5 separate regions of the Homo sapiens genome follow, and all the other regions are reported to be linked to region 3. The links are microRNA targets in miRTarBase. Many come from high-throughput screens and were not tested one by one. Region 3 holds a microRNA gene; each other region holds the end of a gene's coding sequence.
What was found. Region 3 holds the annotated microRNA hsa-miR-6785-5p (UGGGAGGGCGUGGAUGAUGGUG, at 2,327-2,348, shown strand). A microRNA usually pairs through its seed, bases 2 to 8, with sites in the 3' UTR of a target mRNA and lowers its output. Matches are read on the target gene's strand: a 7mer-m8 pairs with bases 2 to 8, a 7mer-A1 pairs with bases 2 to 7 and ends in A, and an 8mer does both.

Region 1: miRTarBase lists ARL8A as a target of hsa-miR-6785-5p. Seed matches in the 3' UTR shown: 8mer at 806-813, 7mer-m8 at 1,198-1,204 and 7mer-m8 at 1,338-1,344.
Region 2: the mRNA of STRN4 is a reported target of hsa-miR-6785-5p. Seed matches in the 3' UTR shown: 7mer-m8 at 2,453-2,459, 7mer-A1 at 2,218-2,224, 7mer-m8 at 2,138-2,144, 8mer at 2,054-2,061 and 7mer-m8 at 2,003-2,009.
Region 4: the mRNA of SLC35F6 is a reported target of hsa-miR-6785-5p. Seed matches in the 3' UTR shown: 7mer-m8 at 2,471-2,477, 7mer-A1 at 2,062-2,068, 7mer-A1 at 1,907-1,913, 7mer-A1 at 1,320-1,326, 7mer-A1 at 1,042-1,048, 7mer-A1 at 1,029-1,035 and 1 more.
Region 5: miRTarBase lists PRR12 as a target of hsa-miR-6785-5p. Seed matches in the 3' UTR shown: 7mer-m8 at 2,500-2,506, 7mer-A1 at 2,489-2,495 and 8mer at 2,108-2,115.

What each region holds. Positions count from the first base shown.
Region 1 is chr1:202,132,019-202,135,018 of GRCh38, reverse strand. ARL8A (ARF like GTPase 8A) reads left to right here. Exons shown (of 7, transcript NM_138795.4): 7 at 503-1,615. The coding sequence ends at 552. GPR37L1 (G protein-coupled receptor 37 like 1) reads right to left here. Exons shown (of 2, transcript NM_004767.5): 2 at 1,427-3,000. Among named protein-coding and RNA genes, the nearest start is that of GPR37L1, 11 kb to the right of the region's middle.
Region 2 is chr19:46,717,789-46,720,788 of GRCh38, forward strand. It overlaps STRN4 (striatin 4), which reads right to left. Exons shown (of 18, transcript NM_013403.3): 17 at 2,748-2,983; 18 at 1,723-2,550. The coding sequence ends at 2,814. LOC107987269 reads right to left here and starts at 1,934. Exons shown (of 4, transcript XM_017027568.2): 1 at 858-1,934; 2 at 565-714; 3 at 11-188. The coding sequence starts at 1,275. RefSeq lists an enhancer at 572-621.
Region 3 is chr17:75,496,227-75,500,412 of GRCh38, forward strand. It overlaps MIR6785 (microRNA 6785), which reads left to right and starts at 2,322; the gene lies at 2,322-2,402. TMEM94 (transmembrane protein 94) reads left to right here. Exons shown (of 32, transcript NM_014738.6): 24 at 56-245; 25 at 504-581; 26 at 887-972; 27 at 1,555-1,636; 28 at 1,949-2,097; 29 at 2,218-2,312; 30 at 2,403-2,496; 31 at 2,686-2,856; 32 at 3,036-4,186. The coding sequence ends at 3,108. It overlaps CASKIN2 (CASK interacting protein 2), which reads right to left. Exons shown (of 20, transcript NM_020753.5): 20 at 4,035-4,186.
Region 4 is chr2:26,778,096-26,781,095 of GRCh38, reverse strand. It overlaps SLC35F6 (solute carrier family 35 member F6), which reads right to left. Exons shown (of 6, transcript NM_017877.4): 6 at 1-3,000. The coding sequence ends at 2,585. Among named protein-coding and RNA genes, the nearest start is that of CENPA, 6.5 kb to the left of the region's middle.
Region 5 is chr19:49,625,304-49,628,303 of GRCh38, reverse strand. It overlaps PRR12 (proline rich 12), which reads right to left. Exons shown (of 14, transcript NM_020719.3): 14 at 1,865-2,843. The coding sequence ends at 2,697. Among named protein-coding and RNA genes, the nearest start is that of RRAS, 13 kb to the left of the region's middle.

The DNA of each region.
Region 1 (3,000 bases), not on the chromosome of region 3:
GTGGCCCAGATTCTGGGCACTATCCCAGCTTGTCGCCAAGCGGTTGTGTGATCTCGGGCAAATCGATCCCCGCTCTGGGCTTCACCTCCTCGTTTCTAAGATTCCAGGGCTGGACCCGGTGATTCTCAGGTCCCTGCTGGCTCTGACATGCTGTGGCTCTGTCTCTTTCCCAGCACCTGAATTCCGCTACTACTCATTCAGGGCCATGTGGCGCTTGCCAGCTCTGGACTTCTTGTTTGTTTTTGAGAAAGTGTCTCGCTCTGTCACCCAGGCTGGAGTTCAGTGGCGTGACCATAGCTCACTGCAGCCTCCAACTCCACTCCTGGGTTCAAGCAATCCTCTCACCTGAGCTTCCCATGTAGCTGAGACTCCAGGTGTGCGCCACCCCTCCTGGCATCTCTGGACTTCTGATACCCTTAGGTTTGGTTTCTTGGGCCTCTCTGCTGCCCCAGCACGGCCAGTACTTGCAGGCCTTATAAGCTGTTCTCTTTTCTCCTATCAGACATCACCCTACAGTGGCTTATTCAACACTCGAAGTCACGGAGAAGCTGAGACTCCAGCCCTTCTCCCTCAGACCAGGGACCGTCATCATCTAAACCTGAAGCCGAGCTCCCCGCCCACCCCTGTCGTCCCCCTAAGCCCACCCCTCCTCACCCAGTGTGAGGAGGGCCCTCTGGGGACCCCAGAGTCCTGTTCTGCTGAGGTTTGAACTCCTGTTTTTATTGTAAAATAAATTGCCCCCCATTCTGGTCCCCTAACTTCTCACCCTTCCCCGCTGCCTTTGTCCCATCACCCAGCCCTGCCTCCCTCCCAGCAGCCCTGGGCCACAGCCCCCGCCCCTGGCTTTTCCCCGGCCCGCTCTTGTACCTCCCTTTTCAACACTCTCTGTTATTGTCCTGTGTGTACAGTATATATATGTATATATATTTTAATTTTTTAATTTAAGCAAAGACTAAAATCAACCATTTGATGCTGCAGGGGCCTTTCAGGATCTGGGAGGGGGCAGTCTGGAGAGAAGGAGGGAGACGCAGGTGGACTTGGGGCAAGTTCAGATCAGAAGAGGTGCAGGCTGGCACCTGCGGCAGGTACCAGCCTGGGCACTGGTGGCCGCCTCCCTGTCCCGTGTGTTTCCACCGCCCAATCTGGCTTGTCCTGGCAGTGCTTGAATGCCACAGGCTGGCAGGGGCCTCTGGGGGCCCCTCCCCTCGACCCCCAGCCTGGGTAGAGCCACCAGGTACGACGACCAGGTACCAGAAACCACCAGGCACACGGGGCAGAAAGCCAGCGTCCATGCCCCAGCAGCCCCCTCCTGCCTGTTCCTGGCTCCCAGCTCCCGCCCCTCCCCAGGGCCCCCACCTCCACGGCCCACTTCATTTTCTGTTCTCATTTTGCAGAGTTGCACAAGGAGAGAACTCAGCATGGGGGGTTGGTTCTTTGGGTTCTGTTTGTTTATTTGTTTAATTTAATGATTTGTAAAGTGATGTTCCTCTTCCTTTTTTACACTTTTCAGCTCATATTTAACCTCTGTTTGGAAAATGATTCTTGTAACTGTACATTTTTTTGCTTCCTAATAACAATGACAACAAAAAAAATAAATGACCAGTTTTGTGTTGGGGGGGGTGTATGGTGCTGGTTACTTTTCCGCAGTTGGCATGGGTTGCCCTACAGGCCCACAGGGCCACCAGCACACCCCCGCACGCTGGGCACCAACAGAGCCACGGAGCGCGAGCACATGCCCGCCCGGGGAGCACAATGGCGCTGCACAAAACGGCCTCCCACACGTGCGTCCAGGCTCTTGCGCCACCTCCTTCTCATTCTCTTTTCAGACTTTCATGTAGTCCCAGCTTTGAGCCAGCAGCTGCCACTTGGGGCTGCAGAGCTCTGTTGAGGGAACTGCCCAGGGCTGGGTAGAGGCAGCAAGGGGACAGGGCTGGGTGCTGTTGTGTGCGAACTGAGCTGCACTCTCCTTAGGCCCAGTTCAGGCCTCAGCCCCTCTTTCCCAGGCCCTGGATCTCACCAGCAGCCAAGGTTGAGCCAGAACCAGAACCCTGTCCCTCCGGCCCCCAGTTCCTACCCCAGAACCAGTTAACTGTGCTTCAGGGGTAGGGCTGGGCCCACAGAGCCTGGGGGAGTGTCACCGCCTTTGCTGCCTCTCAGTTAGTGTCAATGCTATGGGTTTCCTGGTAGGAGCCCTGCCCTCGCTCCTCTGCTGGATTCTAGTCCCCCACCCGACCTCACCGTCAGAGCTGGTCCTCCCTCGGCACTGCTCACAGCTGCTGCCTCAGAGCCTGGTGACCCTGCCTGCTCAAATCCGAGGCCATCTTGACCCAGTTTCACAGTAAGCCCCACCTCCTCCCGCTCCACCTCCCTCGGCCTCTCCTTCACCCTGGAAAATGGAGCAGGCCCTTGCAGAACACCCCAGCCCTTCTCACCCCTCCCACTGCAGGAAAAAGGAGCCAAACTGTCCCTTAGTCCTGGGAGTGGGGACCTTGACTCCCCGTCCTGGGCCCTCCAGCCCCTCACCTTCATTGGTGCCCAGGGCTTCCTCCTGGAGGCAGTCATCAGACCTGTCAGAGCAGTTCCCTGCCTGGAGAGGCAGTTCCCCACTGCCAGAGAGTTGGAGGAAAGAATGTGGATGGAATTTGGCATCTGAAGCTAAGTGATTCTAGGGTACCTCCCAACTCCTAAGCAAAATGGGACATGTCCTCCTGGCTAAGGAGGTTGAATGGGAGCCAGGGCTCTATCCCCTGCCCTCTCCTGACTGCAAGCATGGCTAGGTTTTCCTGGGCCTGGGATCCCGGGAGAGGACCAGCAATCTCACTCATCTGGGGCTGTTTCCAGGCCAAGGTGCCTTTCTCAGATCCTGTGATCCTCACTGAGGATTGAGGTTTGAGATAAGAGAGCTGGTTACCAGGAAGCAAGCAAGCATCCTCCTTCCACAGTGCCGGCGTGCAGCAGGTGCTAATATGACTTAAAGAATTTGTTCAGGGGCCAGGTGCT
Region 2 (3,000 bases), not on the chromosome of region 3:
ACACCCATACCACTTCATAGATGCAGAGTGTGTCTCCTGGGGATGTGGAGTACGTGTGCGTGTCTTTCTCTCCATGTGACTTTGGGTGAGTGGCTTCTCTGTGAGCCTCAGTCCCTCCATCTGTTGGGACTGTAATAGGACTGACCCCACATGGGATGGTGGGAGCCGATGCCATGGTATACTGGTGCCTGGAAACGCAGCAGTTCAGTAAGAGGTGGTTGTCTCTGATAATACGCGGAAAGGGGTGGCCACCTCCAGCACTCAGGCTTTGATGGGTGGGCACACCCATTCAGTCACCCAGCAAGTATCTGTGAGGACCTACTGGGTGCTGGGTGGGCCCTGCTGTAAAACTCCAGCCGCTACAGGGGTCAGGCTTGATCTCTCCTCCCCAGCTAATAATCAAATAGTGGCTACCATTTAGTTTACACAGAATAAGCTGAAGCCTCAGAGAAGCAAAACGTCTTGCCCAAGATCCCAGAGTGAAGTTGCTTGAGGGAAGCTGCCCCACCCACCCCTTTGATTGACAAGTCAAGGCCTAGGTTTGAGCTCTAAGAGAAGGGCCACCTGTCTGGCTGGGATGCTGGCAGGACTGGAAATGGCAGGGCTGGCTGAGGATGGGGGCTGCCAGAAGAGCCCCTCTTCCTGGTGTACGGCCGTTGGGGGTAGCTGAGGTCGGTACAGTATCGATTCTGTCACCACATCCGGGGGCTGGGGCTGAGGAAGGAAGTCTGAGGCTGGAGTGAAAACCCAAACCACCACCTGGGGAACTGCATTGAGCCCAGAGGGATGGGCAGGGAGCACACCACGTGGAGCCCACGAAGGCTCCCCTTGGCGTCATCTAAGGGCCTCCTGCCCACCTGCACCCTTTTTCCTGAAGGGCAGATGACTGTCCCAGCAAAACGCTGCCATGTCCTGAGTGTCCAGACAGCGGCCTCCATCCTTTCTCGTATGTTCACTGGGGCCTGCTGGGGGACTGGGGCACAGCCCTTTACAACCCAGGAACTGGGCATTAGTGCCCTGTGGCAGAGGTGCTAGGATTACCGAGGACGCCTGGCTGGTAGGTGGTGGAAGCCTCCTCGAGACAGGAGCAGCGGTCCCCTCCGTCTCATCTGGAGCATGTGGACACCTGCTCCCTCTTTTTAAGGCTGTGGACCCAGTGAAATGCCATGTAAAGCACTCAGTACAGTAGACGTGGACCACTGAGAAGGGAAAGGAGGGACGCATCAGGACATGAGCCACGAGGGCTCGGGCACCTGCGGCACCTCCTCCCAGCATGGAGGAGCCTGCGCCCCAAAGCCATCATCCTCCACTGGCAGGTGCAGCCTTTTCCCTCCCTGCTCCTTGTGGGCCTGGGATGGGAACAGGAAGGGGGTTTACGTCCTCTGGGCACCAGCCCTTTGGCCTCGCCACCACCCTCACACATCCCAGGCGGGGCTGAGGCTTCAGCTGGACTGTCATCATAGTATCTGCTCCCCAGGGCTCTACCCCTGGGGAGGGAGCACTTAGGGACAGAAAGGGCACAAGGAGATTCGGTCCAGTGCCTCCACTTCTCTCCACCCACACCCCACCCAAGCTCTGGGCCCGTCTCCGGCCCCTGCTGCCCTACCACAAAACCCCAACCCATCATATCCCCTCTCTCCAAACTCCACCCAACCCAGGCAGAGCCGGTCACTCCTCCCCCAAAGTCCCCAGTGCCCTCAACAGATGGCACCGTCACCCATCTTACTCCAAAGGGTTTATTGAGACAAGTTTTCACATACAAGATGGGGACAGAGGGGTTGGGGCTTATAAACAGGAACCTGGAAGGGGACCGAGGGTGCAGGGTAGAACCAAACAAGAGAGTGAAATAAATAGAGGGAAAGAGTGGAGACAGGGAGGAGACTGACTGAGACCATCACACAGTGATAATGCGGGTGGGGCGGCGCCATGAAAATCCCGTTATTTATACAGATATACAGGGAGTTCAGGGGGACCCGAGGCCCACTCCACCCTCCATGCCCCAGGGAGGGGCACAAGAAAGCCGTCTCTACCCATGGGCGACCCCATGGGGCGCTGGGAGGGCTGCCCTAGGAGTGTTGGGCAATCCCTGGCCTGGAAGCCTTGGTTAGTGTCTGGAAAGCAGTGGAGAGGGCCGGAGGGGAGGGGCAGCCAGGCCGGGGCTCAGCTCTGAGGCTCCCGGCTGCCACCCTTTCTCCCAGCACAGCTCCTGCCCAGGTCTGGGAGGATGGGGGATGGGGGAGCAGGAGCTCAAGGGGAGAACCTGGCACCTTCTGGAGTCTTGGAAAAACTGATCCCTAAAGACACCCGGCCCTGGCTGTGCTGCCCTCTGGAAAGCAGCTCTGATACCAGGAGCGGCTGTCAGGGCACAGGGGGAAACCCCGAGGCCATCCTCGGGGGTGATTCCTGAAAGGGGCCCATCCCCAGGCTGGATGCTTGGGGAAGGCAGCCGTTGGGGAGGGATTCCTGGGGAAAGGGCCGTTAGCACCACCAGGCTCCATGGCAAACAGACAGAGGCCAGGCCTCTGCACCTCCAGCGAGGCTGGGAGTCCCCTGCGGGAAAGAGAAGGGAGGGGAGACTGAGCCGCCGCCTCTAGGGCGCCTCTAAGGCCTCAACCCCTCCCCTGCATGCCCAGGGCTCCCCCAGTGATTCTCACAGGACGCCCCTGACTGGACTGCGGGGCTCAGCACACCTGGCAGTACTAGGCATGGGCGTGCAGAGACTCAGAATGCGGGGTTTCTGCCCTCACCTCAGCCCCACCTGCCCGGCCCTACACCCCAGCCAGCGTGGCGGCCAGGGCAGGGCCAGGTGGGCATCATACGAAGACCTTGGCCAGGGCATCAGCGCCAGCACTGGCAATGAGGGCCTTGCTGGGGTGGCAGGCAACAGCGTGGATGGCCTCCTCGTGCTTCTTGCGGTGGGCCGTGATCTCCTGCACGCACGTTTTGTTGTCCAGGCTCCAGAGACGCAGGGAGCAGTCATGGCCTGCACATGTGTCGGGG
Region 3 (4,186 bases):
TGCCCAGTCCTGTGGGAGATACAGCTGAAGTGTGTGTGTCCCCCACCCTGAGCAGCATTGCCCTGGATCCCCTGTACCCATCCCGTTGCTCCTGGGAGACCTTTGGCTACGCCACCAGCATCAGCATGGCCCAGGCCTCGGATGGCCTTTCTCCCCTGCAGCTGTCAGGGCAGCTCAACAGCCTGCCCTGTTCCCTGACCTTTCGCCAGGAGGAGACCATCAGCATCATCCGGCTTATCGAACAGGTGGGTGCTTCGGCAGGCAAAGGAGGAGAGACGCAGGACAGGACCCGCCTGGGGTGGGAGTAGCAGCAAAGGACCTGTTTGAACCCGGGGACCTCATTCCCCAGCCCTCCGAGCGGGCTCTCCCAGGCAGTTACATTCGCCTCTGCTCCCCTCGTAGAAGCATCCTGGGCGTCTGGCTCTTGGCTAAAGTGTGTCAGCTGTTGGGCCTGGGAGAGGCCAGGTAGACCCAGGCCATAATCTGTCCCTCTTGGTCCCTAGGCTCGGCATGCCACCTATGGCATCCGTAAGTGCTTCCTCTTCCTGCTGCAGTGCCAGCTGACTCTTGTGGTCATCCAGGTGAGGTGGGGCCCGCACAGGCATTGCCCCCGTGCCACTCACCCCTTCACTCAGGGGCCAGCTGAAAATCTGAGGAAGGAGGCTGGGGTTAGCAGTACAGTCAAGGGGTCCCCCCAGAGCCTCTGTGAAGCCCCTGGGCTTTTTGAGCTGACCCTCATTGGCAGAAGAGTATTCCCTCCGGCCCCTGTTCCCTCTGGCAGGATGTGAGCATCTATCTGGGCCCAGGGCAAGGGAGCTCGGGGGCTCCTATGCCCTTATTATTTGCCTGAATTGAACTGTGGCTCTTGGCTTCTTTCCTGGTCTAGTTCCTTTCTTGCCTGGTCCAGCTGCCGCCACTCCTGAGTACCACCGACATCCTGTGGCTGTCCTGCTTTTGCTACCCTCTGCTCAGGTGAGATGCCATGTATCTTCCCCACACCCCATGCCTAAGCAGGAGGTGTCTGGATGTCACTGTGCAGCCCCAGGAGCCCAAGGTTCTGGAACTGCTCAGGTCTCACCTCCTCTGGTACAGGAGGCATGGAGGGAACCCCCTTTGTCTTTTTTTTTTTTTTTTTTTTTTTTTTTGAGATGGAGTCTCGCTCTGTCACCCAGGCTGGAGTGCAATGGTGCAATCTCTGCTCATTGCAACCTCCGCCTCCCGGGCTCAAGTGATTCTCCTGCCTCAGCCCCCTGAGTAGCTGGGATTACAGGCACCCACTATCATGCCTGGCTAATTTTTGTATTTTTAGTAGAGATGGGTTTTTGCCATGTTGGCGAGGCTGGTTTTGAACTCCTGACCTCAAATGATCTGCCCATCTCAGCCTCCCAAAGTGCTGGGATTACAGGTGTGAGCCACTGCCGTCCAGCCTTTGTTTTATTCCATCCCCTCACCAGACTCGACCTCACGCGCAAGACTCCCTAGAGGTTCCCTCTATGAGAATTGAGGGACAGAGGGTCATTGTCACCATCCCTCTACCTGATCTCTGCTTTTCAGCATCTCTCTGCTGGGGAAGCCCCCCCATAGCTCCATCATGTCTATGGCAACGGGGAAAAACCTCCAGTCCATTCCCAAGAAGGTAAGCAAAACAGACCCTGTGAGCCTTGCAAGTGAGCATGGAAGGGACTGAGGATTGGGGGAGGAGAGAGGGGCTAATCTGGAAGGCTCTGGATGGGGGATTCCAGCAGAACTCCGGCACTTGGTTCCTAGTCTTCCCCCAGATCAAAGAGGAGGTAGTGGCACAGAGCTGGGAAAGACCCTTGCTGGGGCTTGAGCTCCCTATCCCCCCAGGCCTGACCATTTACTAAGAGCCCGTTGAATACGTGGAAGAGCTAGGAGCAGCCGGCAGAGGGGCTGTGCGCCCCAGGAGTGACTGGCCTTGTTCCCGCAGACCCAGCACTACTTCCTGCTCTGCTTCCTGCTCAAGTTCAGCCTCACCATCAGCTCCTGCCTCATCTGCTTTGGCTTCACACTGCAGAGCTTCTGTGACAGCTCCCGGGACCGCAACCTCACCAACTGCTCCTCCGTCATGCTGCCCAGGTGGGTCCCAGCCCCAGAGATCCACCCATCGCCTGCCTCGCCTCGAGGCTTCCTCCCTCCCCACCCCAGCCTACCTCCCTGCGGCCCTAGAGGGGCTGAGCCCATGCCTCACTTTGGCAGCAACGACGACAGGGCTCCAGCCTGGTTTGAGGACTTTGCCAATGGACTGCTGTCGGCTCAGAAGCTCACGGCCGCCCTGATTGTCCTGCACACTGGTGAGAGGGCTCCCTGGGAGGGCGTGGATGATGGTGGGAGAGGAGCCCCACTGTGGAAGTCTGACCCCCACATCGCCCCACCTTCCCCAGTCTTCATTTCCATCACCCATGTGCATCGCACCAAGCCCCTGTGGAGAAAGAGCCCCTTGACCAACCTCTGGTGGGCCGTGACAGTGCCTGTGGTGTGAGTATTGCTAGGATGGAGGGCGGAGTGTGGGCTGGGGAGGAGAGGGCCTTCTGCAGGGCTAGGATCGGAGGGCGGGACCGGGGCCAGTGGTTTAACTGTACCCTGCCTGAGCTAACTGTTGTACTGGGAAGAGCAGGGAAGGAAGCAAGCAGTGTCGGGTTCACACGGGGCCGCCACCTCCTGCAGGCTGCTGGGTCAGGTGGTCCAGACGGCTGTGGACCTGCAGCTGTGGACACACAGGGACAGCCACGTCCACTTTGGCCTGGAGGACGTGCCCCTGCTGACATGGCTCCTGGGCTGCCTGTCCCTGGTCCTTGTGGTGGTGACCAATGAGATCGTGAAGCTACATGAGATTCGGTGAGCTGTCAGCAGGGCGCCTCCCTCTGGGCTCAGGCATGTTCCCTAAACCTGTTACTCCCTTGGCGACACTCCCCCACCTTTCCGCTGCCCATCCCTCCCTCCTCCTCTGGTGTCCTGCCCCGGCCCCTGGTCTAAGGATCTTTGCCAACCTGTACTTTAATCTCCTGCCCCACCAGGGTCCGAGTCCGCTACCAGAAGCGACAGAAGCTGCAGTTTGAAACTAAGCTGGGCATGAACTCTCCCTTCTGAGCCACTGGCTGTGGTGGCTGTAGTTGCCCCCGTCCCTGGGGCTAAAGCCAGACCCATTTCTGAACAGGGGAGTTTGTATCATGAATGTTTCCAGGTTTGCTCCTGCACCCGTGGCACTGGAAACCCAGCTCCCCGTGTCAGACCCCGCTGTCTTCCTGAGCCCTGGGGCTCACTGTGGAGGAGCTGACGGCCTGGGCCCTTGGCCAGTCCTGGCTCTTCCCTGGGCCTCACCAGGGACACTCTTGAATGTATGGCCTCAGGCGCTCCCTAGAGGGGCCCTAAACCCCCTCACCTGTGAGCTACCCCCTTTAGGGATCCCTTGCCCCCTTGGAGATCCCTTGCCCCCCAGTGCCTCTGCTCGTGGGTCCCTGGACACGGCCTTGAAGCCAACCTTCTTTGGAGGAGCAACAGCAGCAGCCTTGGCCGACGCGTCCAACTCCCAAGGCTGCCGTGGAGGGCAGGGGGGTGGTGCTTGCCTGGATGTGGCCCCGAGTGCCTCCCCTCCCTCCCTCTGTGGGGGAGTCTCCCGCCTGAACCTGAAGATGGAGCAGGGCCCCCGCTTCGCCCTGGAGCCTCTTCCTGTGCCTGGCTCAAGCTGGCTGCCTGTCAGTCTTGGGGAATCTGGCCCAGGTCTCCTCAGCCTCTGCCCCAGTTCTGGGAGAAGTTTCTACTGGTGTATATTTTTTACTGGAAATGAGCCTTTTAGGAATGAATGTAGACTGGTTTGTATTAAAATGTGTCAATTGCTAAGAAATACCTGTGGCTGGTCTGTAAGGCCACTCCAGGGTCTGCCCACCCCCGGCGGTGGCTGGCAAAGGGAGGCCTAAACCTTCCTCCATCTACGCGGGTGGGTCCCTCAGGTCTGGCTCAGGCGAGACCCCTAGGGTCAGGGGTCCCCATGTCACAGAGGCAAACACACAGCCCAGTCACGTGGAATGGTGTTTTCATTGGTGTTAGTTGGGGGAAGAGGTTAATGGTTACAGAGCCAGGGCCTGGGCCAATGGGGTCAGGCTCTCCCTGCCCTCAGGTGGGCAGTCGGGGCTCCTGCTGTGGTCCGAAGCCCCTCCCCCATTGTGTC
Region 4 (3,000 bases), not on the chromosome of region 3:
TAAGATCCCAGGTTTTAGACAAGGCAGCTGTAGTCTCTCCATCATCCTCACTGTCCATTTGCTTCTTCCTGGGACAGACACTGTGGCCCAGTGAAGCTGAGGGGACCCTGGGATTCAAAGCTGGTGGAATGGACCCTCCCTCCCCCCACAAGCTGTAATAACCTGCTGGAATCCCACACAACCTGAGGGCTTCACTTGTCAACAGCTCCCTTCCCTCAGAGGCTATTTTGAGGCAGGCATTCGGTGTTTTATGACTGAGCTACCCAGGAGAATGGTTTGAGGCCACACTCAACTGTTCCAAGGAGCAGCACTGGACCAAAGGCTGCTTGGTTCCCTGCGGTTCCTGATGCCACCCCTTCTCTTCAGGGTGGTTACCTAGAAGACAACAGTACATGAGGCTTCCAGCCCAGCCCTAGGAGATCCATCCCAAAGACCCCACAGAGACCTGCATGGGAGGTGGGGCCACAGGTCTGGTATCAGGCAAACCTAGGTTGGAACACTGGCTCCATAAAGAGGAAGTCACTTAACCTTCTCTGGGGCATGGTTTCTTCATCTGTTCCCACCTCTGAAGACTATCGTAAGACAGAATGAAAGTTAAGCAACTTAACGCAACGCCCAGGATACCAGAATTATTCTAAATGGCAGAATCCTACTTAGTCTGTCATCTTGGGAGTTCTCTAGGCAGGCAGGTTGCCAGGGGTGGGGCTGAGATCCAGATGTGCTCTAGGTCCCTGTCTGCTGCAGAATCATGTGGCTGCTGGACCTGGGGGTCCCCCAGGTCCTTGCAGGAGCTGAGGGTAGGAGACTCCATTTGCCAAACAACTTAGAACTTTGGGCCTCAGTTTCCTTGTCTTTAAAAGGAACAGGTAAAGAATTCATAAAAACAATTGACAAGGGCTGCCTGGAATTTCCCTGTAATCTCTTCCAGGCAGAGGAGGCCTCAGAGGTGAGAGTAAGAGCAGGAAAACAGGGACAGGTTTCACTCTGTTGCCCAGGTGTGGTGGCTCAGGTCTGTAATCCCAGCACTTTGGGAGGCTGAGATGGGAGGATCGCTTGAGGCCAGGAGTTTGAGATCAGCCTGGGCAACACAGTGAGACCCATCTCTGCCAAAAAAATAAAACAATAAACCAGGCATGGTGGTACATACCTGTTAGTCTTAGCTACTCGGGAGGCTGAGGCAGGAGGACTGATTGATCCCAGGAGTTCAAGGCTGCAGTAAGCTGTGCCTGGGTGACAGAGCAAGACCCTGTCTCTCAAGAAAAAAAAAAAAAAAAAAAAAAGGCTGGGCGTGGTGGCTCATGCCTGTAACCCCAGCACTTTGGGAGGCTGAGGCAGGTGGATCATGAGGTCAGGAGATTGAGACCATCCTGGCCAACATGGCAAAACCCCGTCTCTATTAAAGAATGCAAAAAATTAGCCGGATGTGGTGGCACACGCCTGTAGTCCCAGCTACTCAGGGGACTTGCTTGAACCTGGGAGCGGGAGGTTGCAGTGAGCCGAGATCACACCACTGCACTCCAGCGTGGCAACAGAGCAAGACTCTGTCTCAAAAAGAAGAAACAAACAAACAACAAAAAAAACAGCACAGAAGGGTGGTGCTGTGGGCAGAGGGGTATTTCCAGTGGATGGGCTGTTACTGTTTTCTCAGGTTGGTCAAGATCACAGGCCCATGGAATGCTGGGGCCAGAAGGCACTAAGGCCACAGCATCAACATCTACTTCCCAGAGCATAACACCAAGGCCCAGAGCAACTGGGTAATGTGCTGGGAGCTACAATGAGTTTGAGGCAGAGTCTGGGCTAAAACCCATGTCTCCAGACGGGTTTAGGGAGGATCTTAGAAGTTTTAGAAAACATAATGCTTAGTTATGGCTGGGTGTGGTGTCTCACGCCTGTAATCCCAGCACTTTGGGAGGCCGAGGCAGGCAGATCACCTGAGGTCAGGAGTTTGAGACCAGCCTGGCCAACATGGTGAAACCCCATCTCTATAAAAGTTACCCAGGTGTGTTATGCACCTGTAATCCCAGCTACTCGGGAGGCTGAGGCAGGAGAATCATTTGAACCTGGGAGGCAGAGGTTGTAGTGAGCCGCCGAGATCGTGCCACTGCACTCCAGCCTGGGCGACAGAGCGAGACTCTGTCTCAAAAAAAAAAAAAGAAAATATAATGCTTAGTTCTGGTTTAAATTTGCTCACTGACTTTTCTTCTTTGAAGAATCAAATCTAGCTTATGACTCATAAACTAGATAACTATGATAATCTAGTTTATGATTCAGATACACTACGGTGGTAAATTCCTACAATTCAACTTCATGATTTAGCTCTAGTGCTGTAGGAGGGGTCCAGAGAGCTGAGGTCTGCCACTGCACTCAGGCTTGTGGGGGCTGGGTAACACCACCCTGCAGGTGGTAGTGAGAAAAAGAGGACTTGGGTGTTGTTATCTTCTGTGGCAGCAGCTGCCCTGGGGGTTCTGCAGGGAGGGGACAGGGTGAGGCCTTGGGGATAGGGCATTCGGGGCCCACCAGCCTGTGTGGCCTCAGTCTCAGGGAGAAGGAGCACCCGGGTGGCAGTAGAAGCCTCCAGGGAACCTCAGCTGGCATCATTGATGGGAGTGCGGGTGCCACCCAGCAGTCTCTCCTGCTCGCTCTCCTCTGCCAGGGGCCGGCCCCTGGACAGGCGGCCCAGCAGCGGACGGTGTAGCCCATTGTAGAGGGCAGTGCCTATAAGGAGTATGAGGAAGCCAAGGATCTGCAGTGCATGGAAGGCCTCCCAGCCCAGTGCCAGGCTCAGTGCCCAGATGACAACGGTGCGCAAGCTGTCCAACACCATGCGGGTGGTGGCGCTCAGTTCCTTGGTGACGCTGATGCCTGCGAAGTTGAAGAAGGCAATGCTGCTGATGTTGCCCAGCAGTGCCACGGCAATGAGCGGCTGCTGGCCCACCTGGCAGAAGGCGTCCAATGCATCCTCCAGTGTCCCACGAGGGTTTCCGCTGAAGGAGCCGGCGG
Region 5 (3,000 bases), not on the chromosome of region 3:
GATCGAGATTCCGTCAAAAAAAAAAAAAAAAAAAAAAAAATCTGTAACATGTGATGGTCTAGAGTCCAGATTTGTCCAACCCACCTTATTTTGTTGTTGTTCTGTTTTGTTTTAGGCTTTTAGCAGCCTGAAGCCATGGTTTTTAGTTTCTGTCTCTAGTAATAAACAAAAAAGAGGGATGAGGAAGGGGCTTTACTGGTACAACAGAAACTAAGAACCCATGACTGTATTCTCTCCTTGGACACCCCTGGAACAATACTCAAGGTTCTAGAACGATGAGGGTTCTCCCTGAATCTCACCTAAAAGGGCATCTGGAATGCTGATGTTCCACCCTCAAATCTCACACTGGGTCCCTACCCACGGACTAAGCCAGGGTTCTGGAACACCAGTGGTCCATCCATCCAGGCTCTAGAATGACAACAGCCTGTTCACTGCTTCATAGACTGGGTTCTAAAATATTGCCAGTTGACCTCCACATTTTTTATTTTTTGAGATGGAGTCTCGCTCTGTCAGCCAGGCTGGAGTGGTGCAATGGCACGATCTCAACTCACTGCAACCTCCGCCCCCTGGATTCAAGCGATTCTCCTGCCTCAGCCTCAGCCTCCCATGTAGCTGGGATTATAGACGCACGCCACCACGCCTGGCTGATTTTTGTATTTTTAGTAGAGACGGGGTTTCACCATGTTGGTCAGGCCGGTCTCGAACTCCTGACCTCAAGTGATCCCCCCGCCCCGGCCTCCCACAGTGCTGGGATTATAGCCGTGAGCCACCGTGCCCAGCCAACCTGCACATTTTTAACATTCTTGTTCTAGAACACGGTTCTTCAAACTTGAATGTGCTTGAGAATCCTCTCGGCATTTTACTAAAAAGTGGGTTCTGATCAAGTAGACCAGAGCAACAGCCTGAGATTCTACATCTTTTCCTTTAAGGGTGGGAGGAGGAGAAACAGCCCTATTCAACCTGCCCTCTCCTCGTCTGCTGCCTGTGCCGATTCTACATTTATACAAGTGCTTGGGGAACTCCAAGAGTGCTGTACCATGGACCACTCACTTGGATTCAAGAATACAGGACTTGAGGCCGGGCGCAGTGGCTCACACCTGTAATCTCTTTGGAAGGCTGAGGCTGGCGGATCACTTGAGGTCAGGAGTTCGAGACCAGCCTGGCCGACATGGTGAAACCTGGTTTCTACTAAAAATACAAAAATTTGCTGGATGTAGTGGTAGGCCCCTGTAATCCCAGCTACTTGGGAGGCTGAGGCAGGAGAATCGCTTGAACCGGGGAGGCTGAGGTTGCATGAGCCAAGATCGAACCACTGCACTCCAGGCTGGGTGACAGAGCGAGACTCTGTCTCAAAAAAAAAAACCAAAACAAAACACTACAGGATTTGAACTGGGTGTAGTGGCATGCACCCGTAATGCCAACTACTTGAGACTGGGGCAGGAGGATCTTTTAAGCCCAGAAGTTCAAGGCCAGCCTGGGTAACATAAAGAACACAGGGCCAGGCACAGTGGCACTTGCCTGTAATCCCGTCACTTTGGGAGGCTGAGGCAGGAGGATCGCTTGAGCCAGGGAGTTGGAGGCTGCAGTGAGCTATGATCATGCCACTGCACTCCAGCCTAGGTGACAGAGCGAGACCCTGTCTTTAGCTAAAAAACAAAAGAAACCCCCCAGTGATAAATATTTGTTGTCTGAAGTCATTAAATTTCAGGGTGGGATACTCTGCTGTGCGGGGACACAGAACATATGCCAGCCTCAGGCCCCCCACTGCCCAGGGCTCTGGGAAAGTCCCGTTCCAGAACCTCTGCCCCTGCTACCACTGCCACCCACTCCAGCGCCGCAGGACAGAGGCACTCCAGCCTGCCGGTAAAGTGTTTGCCGTTGGGTTTTCGTTTGGCTGGTTGTGTGTACACAGTGTATACAAGTTGAGTTGTACAGAAGCCCAAGAAAGAGCAAGAGACAAAGGGTAGTGGGAGCAGGGGGTGGGGCGGGGGCGAGAACGGGGAGGAGGGGAAAGGAGACCGATAAAAAATAGAACCACATCCAGACAACAATGGGGGATGGGCAGTGGGTGGGGGCCAGACACAGACAAATCGCCGTAGAAAAGGAGTGGGAGGGGCAGAGAGAGGGGACCCTTCTCCCCCCTCCACCTCCCCAAGCCCCTGCCCCAGGTATGTACAATAAATAAGATTAAAAATAATTAACAAGATGCGTTTTCCCCTCCCACCCGACGCCAAATGCCCTGCGGAGGGAATGGCCTTTAGCAAAGATCTTGGCCTGCAGGGGGGACTTGGGGGGAAGGGGTCCCCCAGCTCTCTGAAGCCACCCCACCCCCCCCAGCCATACATAGACTTTTCCTATACATTATGTACAAGGTGGAGGGGGCGGGGGCTGTGGCTGTGGAGGGGGGGTCGGGGCAAGGGGAGAGGGAAACCGTTACTAAATAGACATTTATACATATATATAAATAATTTCTCTGTACACCGAACAGTGGGAGGAATGGGGAGGGAGTGGAGGGGGCTTGGGAGAGGGGGGGAGTCGGACTTTGAACCCTGCCCTGGAGGGGGCAGCACAGACACACCCTGACCCATGACCCCCTTTCCCCGGCGATGGAGCCCAGGTGTTAGCTCCTGAGGACACGGTTCTGTCCCAATTCTCGGTTCATGGAGGAGGCGCCCCCCTCACAAGCTGGGGCGGGGTCACCCGCAGCGGCTGTGGGCCTGTGCTTGGGCCAGCAGGTCACTGAAGGAGTCAAAGAGCTGTTCCAGCCACGGCTGGTTCCGCATGCACTGCTGGACCACCTCCTCCTGGCCCAGGTCCTCGGCGCCGCCCTCGATGGCCAGGGTCTGCAGGGGTCAAACATGGCACTGGGGAGGGTGGCACACCGGCCTCTGGGGAGGGAAGGGGCTGGGGCATGGGGCCTGGGGTGTCAGATGTCAGTGTCCCAGGGAGACCAGGGCTGGGGGCTGCATTCTTAAGTCCAAGACAGAAGGACCTGAACTC